Linked DNA regions of Homo sapiens: region 2 is linked to region 1. Evidence: fine-mapped expression QTL. Tissue or cell type: tibial nerve. Region 1 holds a variant in brackets; the other region holds the start of a gene. All regions are shown on one strand. Distances are between the middles of the regions.

Region 1 (5,141 bases):
CCCTGACGGGAGCGGGGCGGAAAAGAACACAGCAAACCTTGGAAACCGCCCTCCGGAGACCAGACGCACAACCCCCAAGAAAACACGAAAGAACCGTGCTGGGAGACAAAACAGAGGAAATGGAGTGCACAGGATAAGCAGGAAGAAAGCCAGGACAGGAGGCAGAAAGGAAGCTCAGACAGTGCAACCCCTGCCTGAAACCCTGGCCAGACGGAGCTCAGAAAGGAGGGGAAGAAGAGGGATACGGGCGACTGGAAATTCCCTGGACCGGAGGCAGAGGAAACGCTCCAGGGAGTGAAAAAGCCTCACACTAAAGCACGTGGCTGAGAAGTCGTGGCGCTCCGAGGAAAGAGGCAGCTCCAGGCCTGGAGGGAACAGCGGTTGCCCACACACAGCCGGGCCCATCCACCACACATGCACAGACGGACTGTGGTGCGGTCACCTCCTGAGGGACAAAGGTTTCCCGCCCAAAGTGCACATCCAGAGAAACTACTGATGAGGGCAGAATAAAGACAGACAGGAGGACTGGGGAGTGAATTCCTGCCGACCCGCTGCTAGGGAATGGTTGCAGGGCCAACTCTAATGGAATAGGGTTTAGTCTGCTTTGCATTGCTCCAAAGAAATCCCCGAGGCTGGGTCATCTATAGAGAAAAGGGGTGGGTTTGGCTCATGGTTGTGGAGGCTGAATGGGAAGCGTGGCACCAGCGTCTGCCTTTGGTGAGGACCCCAGGGAACCTCTCATCACGGCAGAAGGGGAGGGAGCAGGTGTCACTGGAAGGATGGCCTGGACCGTAATAGTCCATGTCCTCGGCGTTTGAACAAAGAAGTGGACAAAACGTGCAAAGTAACGAACAAAACACGGAAAGAAAGCAGCGAAAGCAGGGATTTATTAAAGCGAGAAAGGTCGGGAGTGGGGTGAGAGGGGCGCTGTTACATAGTTTTCTGGGGTTTGTTTTTTTTTTGTTTTGAGAGGGAGTCTCACACCGTCGCCCGGGCTGGAGTGCAGTGGCGCCATCTCGGCTCACTGCAACCTCTGCCTCCCAGGTTCAAGCGATTCTCCAGCCTCAGCCTCCGGAGTAGCTGGGATGACAGGCGCCCGCAACCACGCCCGGCTAATTTTTGTGTTTTTAGTTGAGACGGGGTTTTTCTTTGTTGGCCAGGCTGGTCTTGAACTCCCGGCCTCAGGTGATACACCCGCCGCACTCTCCCAAAGTGCTGGGATGACAGGTGTGAGCCACCCCCTCGGCCAGTTTTCTGGGTCTTAAGGGCACCTTTCATGGTTCCTATACCTCTTATCTGGATGAAAGATTTGGTCCGTGGCTAATCAAAGGCTGAGGTAAACTGGTGTCTGCAGATGAAAGGGTGGCCCGCAGCCAGTCCACAGCACTTTCCTTTCCATCTGGGACATGGTGGTGGGGGCTGTACGAGAGCAGCCTTTGATCCTTTGCTACTGGGCGTGGGGCTCTTCCTCAGGGTGTAGTTTTTGGAAGTTGGTGTTAATTGGCCCTGGGTTCCCTGCCCCAGACCTTGAAGTTTTTCCTGGATTCAGCGTGCTTTGGCCTCGGACTCTCTCCCCCTGACCTTGGTGTTTTCTCTTTTAGGAAGTCAGCACAAATTAGCGTCCCATTCCCTGCCCCAGGCCTCGCTGTTTTTCCTTGATTCAGCACGAATTGGCCTAAGTTCCCTGCCCCCAGACCCTATTCTCCTGCTCCCAGGGCATCACGTGCAGAGAGGGAGGCAGAGAGTGAGGGGGGAGGTACCAGGCTCGTTTTAACCGTCAGTTCTCTTCCCAACGAACTCATTACCTCCAGAACTGCACCAAGCCATTGATGAGGGGCCCGTCCCCATGACACAAAACCTCCCAACTGGGATCCAGTTTCCACGTGAGATCTGGACAAACATTCAAACTCTATCAGGACTATAAACCAAACAAAGGTGGAAGACCTTCAGTGCAGGCATTAAGTGAGCACTGACATTCCAGGCTGGGAGTAGCAGGTTGGACGAGGGGAGGCTCTGGGGGCAGGGAGGGAGGTTGCAGAGTCCAGAGCTTGGAAGATGGAAGATAAGGGCACCCAGTGTAGGGCAGGAGAAGAAAGGCAACTGGAAACTCTGGGACAAACTATAAAACCCCACGGAAAAGACAGGTGTAAGGTGACTACCTTGATCCGAGGGTGATCTGAGTGGCTGGTACCTTTGTGCTCACAGCAGGACTGTCGTAAAGTAGGTACATCCATGACTTCTACTTGACAGACGAAGAGACTGAGGCCGAGAAATTGAACCAGCTCACCCACGCTGCCCTTGAAC[A/G]GTGGTCGTGAGAGGGGAACCCACAGCCTACCAGGACACGGGGCCCTGCCCAACCCCCAGGACGCCCTCGTGTTGAATTAAGTCCGTGGCTTTGAGCCTCAGAAACGGTGCAAAATGCAGTCCACGCGTGGCTTTCGGCCCCGGTCTGGTGCTCGGAAGACATGTGCCTCCCTCTACCTGCCCCCCGTCCTCCCGCCACTGTGAGGCCCTGAGAGGCCCTGAGATTCTTGCGATGTGTGAATAAGGGTGCCGCATTTTCATGTTGCACTGGGCACTGAATGGTGGAGCTGAGTGATGCGGTTTGGTTCTGTGTCCCCACCCAAATCTCATCTCAGATTATAATCCCCACCTGTCAAGGGAGAGACCCGCTGGAGGTGAGTGCATCGTGGGGCCATTCACCCCATGTTCTCGTGGTAGCGAGAAAGTTCTCACAAGATCTGTTTGTTGTTGTTTTTGTTGGTGGTGGTGGTTTTTAAGACGGAGTTTCACTCTTGTTGCCCAAGCTGGCTGGAGTGCAGTGGCACAATCTTGGCTCCCCGCAACCTCCACCTCCCGGGTTCAAGCAATTCTCCTGCCTCAGCCTCCCGAGTAGCTGGGATTACAGGTATGAGCCACCGCGCCTGGCTAATTTTGTATTATTAGTAGAGATGGGGTTTCTCCATGTTGGTCAGGCTGGTCTCGAACTCCGGACCTCAGGTGATCCACCCGCCTCGGCCTCCCAAAGTGCTTGGATCACGCGGTGGCGTGCGCCACCGCACCCAGCCTAAGATCTGGTTTTTAAAAGTGTTTGGCAGTCCCCCCCTCAAACTCTCTCCCCCGCTGCCATTTAAGACATGCCTTGCCTCCCTTTGCCTTCGGCCATGATTGTAATTTTCCTGAGGCCTCCCCAGCCATGTGGAACTGTGAGTCAATGAAGGCTTTTTTCCTTTAAAAATTACCCAGTCTTGGCCAGGCGCGGTGGCTCATGCCTGTAATCCCAACAGCTTGGGAGGCCGAGGCGGGTGGATCACTTGGGGTCAGGAGTTTGAGACCACCCTGGCCAACATGGTGAAACTGTCTGTAGTAAAAATAAAAAATTAGTCAGACGTGGGGCCAGGTATGGTGGCTCACACCTGTAATCCCAACACTTTGGGAGGCCGAGGCGGGCGGATCACGAGGTCAGGAGATCGAGACCATCCTGGCTAAAACGGTGAAAACTTGTCTCTACTAAAAAAAAAGAAAAAAAAGAAAAAAATTAGCCGGGCGTGGTGGCGGGCGCCTGTAGTCCCAGCTTCTCTGGAGACTGAGGCAGGAGAATGGCATGAACCCGGGAGGCAGAGCTTGCAGTGAGCTGAGGTTGCGCCACTGCACTCCAGCCTGGGCAATAGAGTGAGACTCCGTCTCAAAAAAAAAAAAAAAAAGTCAGATGTGGGATCAGGCATGGTGGCTCACACCTGTAATCCCAGCACTGTGGGAGGCCGAGGAGGGCACATTATTTTAGGTCAGGAGTTCAAGACCAGCCTGACCAACATGATGAAACCCTGTCTCTACTAAAAATACAAAAAAAATTAGCTGGGTGTGGTGTGCGCCTGTAATCCCAGCTACTCCGGAGGCCGAGGCATGAGAATCAGTTGAGGCAGAGGTTGCCGTGAGCCGAGATTGTGCCACCGCACTCCAGCCTGGGTGACCTACTGAGACTCTGTCTCAGAGAGAGAGAGAGGAAGGAGGGGAGGGGAGAAGAGGGAAAGGAAGGGCAGGGGAACCCAGTCTTGGATATTTCTTCTTTTTTTTTTTTTTTTTTTTTTTTTTTGAAACGGAGTCTTGCTCTGCCACCCAGGCTGGAGTACAGTGTTGCAATCTCGGCTCACTGCAACCTCCGCCTCCCTGGTTCAAGTGATTCTCCTCCAAAAGCCTCCAAGTAGCTGGGATTACGGGCAAGGGCCACCATGCCCAGTAAATTTTTGTATTTTTAGTAGAGAAGGGGTTTCACCATGTTGGTCAGGCTGGTCTCAAACTCCTAACCTCGTGATCCTCCTGCCTTGGCCTCCCAAAGGGTATTTTTGTTTGTTTTTGAGACGGAGTCTCGCTCTTTCGCCCAGGCGGGAGTGCAGTGGTGCAATCTCGGCTCACTGCAAGCTCTGCCTCCCGGGTTCATGCCATTCTCCTGCCTCAGCCTCCCAAGTAGCTGGGACTCCAGGCACCCGCCACCATGCCCGGCTAATTTTTTTTATTTTTGGTAGAGACGGGGTTTCACCATGTTAGCCAGGATGGTCTCGATCTCCTGACCTGGTGATCCACCCGCCTCGGCCTCCCACAGTGCTGGGATTACAGGCGTGAGCCACCACACCCGGCCACAAAAGGTATTTCTTTCTTTCTTTCTTTTCTTTCTTTTTTTTTTTTTTTTGTGAGATAGAGATTTACTCTTGTCGCCCAGGCTGGAGTGCAATGGCGCGATCACAGCTCATGGCATCCTCCACCTCCCGGATTCAAGCGATTCTCCTGCCTCAGCCTCCCGAGTAGCTGGGATTACAGGCATGCACCACCATGCCTGGCTAATTTTTGTATTTTTAGTAGAGACGGGGTTTCACCATGTTGCCCAGGCTGATCTCGAACTCCTGACCTCAGGTGATCCGCCCGCCTCAGCCTCCCACAGTGCTGGGATTACAGGTGTGAGCCACCTTGCCCAGCCCCCAAAGGGTATTTCTTTATAGCAGTGTGAAAATGGACAAATACAGTGGCCTCAAGTTCTCTCCTTAGTGGCACCTGAGGGAGTGTGGTGCTCTTGGAAATGCTCTCCTGTCACTCAGTTTCTGCCTCTGAAGCGACAAGCAGAACATGGATGTTCTCAGAGTCCAGGG
Region 2 (5,141 bases), 50 kb before region 1:
GGAGCCCAGGGAGGGATGTTGGGTGGCGGTTCAGACTGGGCTGGGCTTTGCAGGGTAGGTAGGGGTCGGGTGGTGGGAGAGGCTGAGGCAGAGGCACTTGGGCCTGAAAAGTATCTGAGTCCTGGATGCCAGGAAGCCACACAGGGCACTTGGGCACAGATATGTCATTGCTGCTCCTAAAATTGATCATGTGTAAGCCTCTGGATAGCCGTGGGGGTCGGCACTAATCAGAGGGTCTCATAGGTAACCCAGTGATGAGGGGATCCAGGCTAACCATTGAATGCAATATTGTCAATAAGAAAGAAAAAAGCAGGTTACAGAACAGAAACCATCTGCACCAACACCTATGGTGCTCCAACCGTGCCAGGCAGGGTCCCGGGCCTGGGCCGCGTGATGAGCCTGGCGTGGGGTCCCGGGCCTGGCCCGCGTGATGAGCCTGGCGTGCAGATACTGAAGAGTCCTCTCAAGTGTGGGAAGGGCTCTGAGAGTTAGGCACCTTTTTTTTTTTTTTGACAATTAAAAGAAATTTGCACATAAAAAAAAAAACCTGGAGGGTTAGATGTGGGGAGGTGATGGGCTGCTTTGGGGTCTGGAAATTTGTTTTTACTCCCTATCTGCATTGTCTAATATTTCAACAAGGAACACGGTTATTATTCCTGCGTGTATGTGTGTGGATCTCATTTCCTGTGTCTGGCCCTGCAGGGAAAGCTGGGAGGGGGAGCCTTGGAAAGATGGCTCCACATGGCCTGCGGGGTCCTTCCATTGTACCTGGGCCTACTGCGGGCTGATCCCTGAGCAGGGGCAGGCAGCGTCCAGACACCAGTGCCACAGGGGAATCGGCTTTTCCTTCTGTGGTTTCTCTCCATTAGAGCAGGCTGCAGTCAGGGCTGTCAGTCAGGAGACAGCAAGCCGGCCGAGGGCTGTGGCTGGAGATCCCAAATCGCCCTGGGCTTCAGAGACTCAAATTCCCAAACTCTGTGATCTTTCTTGGCTCCCTGCGTCCTTTGCTTGGAAGCCATCTGTTATTTTGCCAGGGTGCCGCTATGTGACAGCCAAGGGCTGAACTGGGGTGTTCCAGGTTTAAGCCGGGTACCCCTCAGACAGCCTGGTGGACCTCAGGCCTCACGCCACACTGCAGACGAGCAAACCTCAGGGCGGTGGTGAGGAGCTTTCGGGTGAGGTCAAGGCAGGAAGCGGAGCTTGGTCTGGGGAAAACTGTCCCAGGGCTGCTGGAACCGAGCGGGAGGCACGGCCTGCAGGAGCTGCCTGGGCGCCCGCACCCTTTGCCTGAATTTCGCATCCTTTTCCCATGGAAGTGGTTGGGGACCGAGGATGTGGCCTCCCGGCAGCCTGGAAGGCTGGGCTGAGGAGGACACAGGGCCGGGAAGGCCCAGACTGGTCCCTAGAGAGCGGGACTGGCCTCTGCCCACTGCGGGCTTCAGGGAGGAGGCGCAGAGGCCGGGGAGACAGCAGATGGGGCCCTGCAGGCCTCGCTGCGCCCTGACCTGTTCCTCGCCTCTTTAGCCAACCTCCCGGGAAGGCAGGAGCCGGTCTCCATGGCCTCTCCCGGCCCTGCCAGCCCCGTGGGGCCTCCCCGCCCTGCAGCCGCGCCCGGCGCCATCCCGCCGTCCGACCGCGAGGGGACGCCGCTGGCCGCGTTCCTCCTCCCAGGCCGAGGCTGCCTGTGCTGCCTCCCGCCGGCGGGGCCCTGAGCCTCCTCGCCCTGTCGGCGGCGGTCCCCTCTGACCGCAGGGTCTTCTTCTAGAGTCCTGATCGCCGAGGCTGAGCGGAGGCGCCCGGTCTTCCCGCCTCTTCAGTCTTAATGTCTCCCTCACCCTCGCCCCCCACCCCCGTGGCTTTTGGCGAGGTCCGTGCCCTATTTTTAGGCAGAAATCGGCAAAAAGAGTGGACTGCGAGGTGGTTTCTGTCCCCGCCGACGCCTCCTCTTCCGCTGCTCCCTCCCCCGGGACCGGTGATGGGGAAGGTGGGGGAGTGAGTTCAGGGCGGAGCGGGCCCACCCCCCACGGAACCCAGGCCTGCCCCGCCCCGCCCCGGCCTCGGGGGACTGGTGTGGACCGTGCCCCGCGGACCCCTCGGAATCAGACCGCGATTCAGCCCTCGGCCCCCCGGGACGGTCCTTCCAGCCCCAGACGAGCGCGGCGCCTGCACACAACAGGCGCCCACTAAATGCTTGTTGATGGAGGTGGCGAGTACCCGAAACCAGCGGAGCCTGGAAATGGGATCCTAGAGATCCGGGAAGGGCGCGGGGATCTGGTGCCAAGCTGGGGTCCCCCTTTTGCCTCCCCTAGTGTCTGCCTGGGTCCGAACCCGGGCTCAGGCCCCGCGCAGCTCGGAGCCTCCAGCCCGGAGCCGGTCCCTGGGCCGGGGATGCGCACAGCCGGGGAGGGCGCGCCCGACCTGACCCCAAAGCTATCAGTTGGGGGGGGGGTCCCCGGGGAATTAGAAGCTGTCTCCTCCCGGGCATCTCCGAGGGGCACCCCTGCCTCTGCCCCCTGCCCTCATTTCCCGCCGCGCCCCTCCCCGGCCCCGCCCCCCGGCCGCGCCCCACCCCCTGCAGTCCCCGCGCGGCGGCCGCCCGAGCCACGTGCGCCCGCGCCCGGCAGGCGTTCAGGGAAGCGCGGCCACGCCTGGGCCGGCCACCATTTCCCGGGCGCCGCGGCGGCGCCGACTCGCGGGCAGCGGCCCCTCAGTGCGCCCAGCCGGGCCCCCGAACGCCGGGAGCATGAGCGCGGGCTCGGAGCGCGGGGCGGCGGCAACCCCCGGGGGTTTGCCCGCGCCCTGCGCCTCGAAGGTGGAGCTGCGGCTCAGCTGCCGGCACCTGCTGGACCGCGACCCGCTCACCAAGTCCGACCCCAGCGTGGCGTTGCTGCAGCAGGCGCAGGGCCAGTGGGTGCAGGTAGGGCCGGGGCGTGGGAGGCCGAGAGGCCACCGGGCCGGGGCTGGCGCCGAGCTGGGGATGCGGAGACCAGAGCGGGCGCGCTGAGGCCAGTGGGGCGCAAGGCGGGGCCCCCCGGAGCTGGGGCTCAGCTCGGGGTCAGGGTTGGGGGTTACCAGGTCTGGGGGTGGGGTGTCCAGAGCTGTGGGGAGAGGCTGGGCTGGAGGAGGTGGCGGCGAGCGGGGTTCGGAGGAGAGAGGGGGGTGCCCCGCAGTGAGGGGTGCGGCCCAGGGTTCGGGGAGGGGGCCCCGGGCCAGAGTGAAGCGCCCAGGCATGAGGCGCGGGCAGGGGGCTCGACCAAGAGGCGCAAGGAGATTGAGGGGTGAGGGGCGCCGGCCGACGGGGGGCGGGAGGCTGGGCGGGAGCAGGCCGGCGAGGGAGCGCGCGCTGGGGTGCGGACCTCCAGGCGTCCGGGGCTCCCGCTCCAACGTGGGTCTCAAGCGAACCCGCTGTGATCGCGGTTGGGGTCCGAAGGGGCACGGGGCCGGCGCCAGACGGGCGCTTCCTCGGTCACCATCTCGCGTGAAACGCGTGGCTTCACCTCGAAAGGGCGAGAAACGCATGGCGCGAAGCCGCAGCGGGCGGAGGAGCCGGAACTCGAACCCCAGTCCGCGCGGGGCGCCAGCGCTTTTCCCCGGCGCAGGGGTCTCTCCAGGCTCCAGCGCGGGCCCGGGCGGCTGCTCGGGCGGTGGAAGGGACGCGGTCACCCGGTGGCGTCTCCGGTCATCCACCTTGAGGGTGAAGGGCCTGCCCCGCCCTCACCGCCTGTCCCCAGGGTTCCGGCTGCCCCCGGAGGCCCCGTGCCCGCCCCTCACAGCCTGAGCCCACCCTTCACATCCCGAGCCCACCATCCCCACGGAGGCCTCGTGCCCGCACCCTCAGAGCGTGAGCTGTACGGGTGGCCCATGTTTGCCCTTGGTTTGAGGTGCAGGATTTTTCAGGATTCTGAAATGAGTAGCCTACTGGCCCAGCTGGGTCTTGTCCTTACGGGGCAGTTGGACCAGGGAACTGCATGGGATGGGAGAGGCTGGTGAGCCCATGGTACCCCAGCCAGGAGGGAGGGCCCCCCTGTACCCTACGCCCCCTCCCCACTCAGCTGGTGCTGGGGAGCGGCCTGCACTTTAGGGCTGCCCAGCCCAGGGTGTGAATCTGATCTCGCCCCCGACTCAGCGTGTCATTCTCGTCCTCTGTGAGCCTCACTTTCCCCATCTGTGATCTGAGGGTGGAGCAGACAGTGGTGGCCAGGGGTGACCCCCAGGGTGGCCCTCGGGATTGTGGTCCCATGGACAGAGAGCAGGCAGGAGGTCTTCCCAGGGTATGAGTCCTCCTGAGGTACCTGGGCGTGGGTGAGCGGCAGAGGGGAGATGGAGGTCTGGAGCCCGGGGTGGAAGCCTCTGGAGTGGGGTCGGCTCACAGGTGCACTTGCAGGTGGGCAGAACCGAGGTGGTCCGGAGCAGCCTGCATCCCGTGTTCTCCAAGGTCTTCACGGTGGACTACTACTTCGAGGAGGTGCAGAGGCTGCGCTTTGAGGTGTACGACACGCATGGGCCCAGCGGCTTCAGCTGTCAGGAGGACGATTTCCTGGGGGGCATGGAGTGCACCCTGGGGCAGGTGGGTGCCCCGTCCCCTCGGAGGGAGGAGGACGGTTGGCGTGGGGGCCACAGCCGATTCAAGGCTGATGTACCAGCACCGCAGGGACCCTGCTGGGGTGGCCAACCTGGCTCTGCCCCCTCCTCAGCTCCTCCTGAACAGTCATTATTAGATTAAAATATACATGTAATTTTGAACTGGGTAATACATTCGTATGTTTTAAAGCCTGAAGGTATAAAAGGCTGTGGAGCGCCTCCATCCTGCCCCATCCAGCTGCTGCCAGGTCCCTGGACATTGTCCAGAGAGAGATTTTCACAGGAGCAAACCAGCCTATCACTTTTCCTCTTTTTTCTTTTTTTTCTTTTTCTTTTTTTTTTTTTTTGAGATGTAGTCTCGCTCTGTCACCCAGGCTGGAGTGCAGTGGCGTGATCTCGGCTCACTGCAACCTCCACCTCCTGGGTTCAAGCGATTCTCCTGCCTCAGCCTCCTGAGTAGCTGGGATTACAGGCACCCGCCACCACGCCCGGCTAATTTTTGTATTTTCAGTAGAGACGGGGTTTCACCATGTTGGTCAGGCTGCTCTTGAAATCCTGAC

Evidence for each region. PIP is the estimated chance that this variant, and not a neighbour inherited with it, causes the effect.
Region 2: it holds the start of CPNE7, and the variant in region 1 is fine-mapped to the expression of CPNE7 in tibial nerve (GTEx, PIP above 0.99).

What each region holds. Positions count from the first base shown.
Region 1 is chr16:89,623,586-89,628,726 of GRCh38, forward strand. All of the region lies in intron 1 of DPEP1 (dipeptidase 1), which reads left to right. Among named protein-coding and RNA genes, the nearest start is that of DPEP1, 13 kb to the left of the region's middle. RefSeq lists enhancers at 1-779, 4,829-4,998. The variant A/G (reference allele first, on the strand shown) is at 2,305.
Region 2 is chr16:89,573,155-89,578,295 of GRCh38, forward strand. CPNE7 (copine 7) reads left to right here and starts at 2,604. Exons shown (of 15, transcript NM_153636.3): 1 at 2,604-2,917; 2 at 4,385-4,567. The coding sequence starts at 2,744. RefSeq lists silencers at 810-1,067, 1,528-1,757, 1,998-2,067.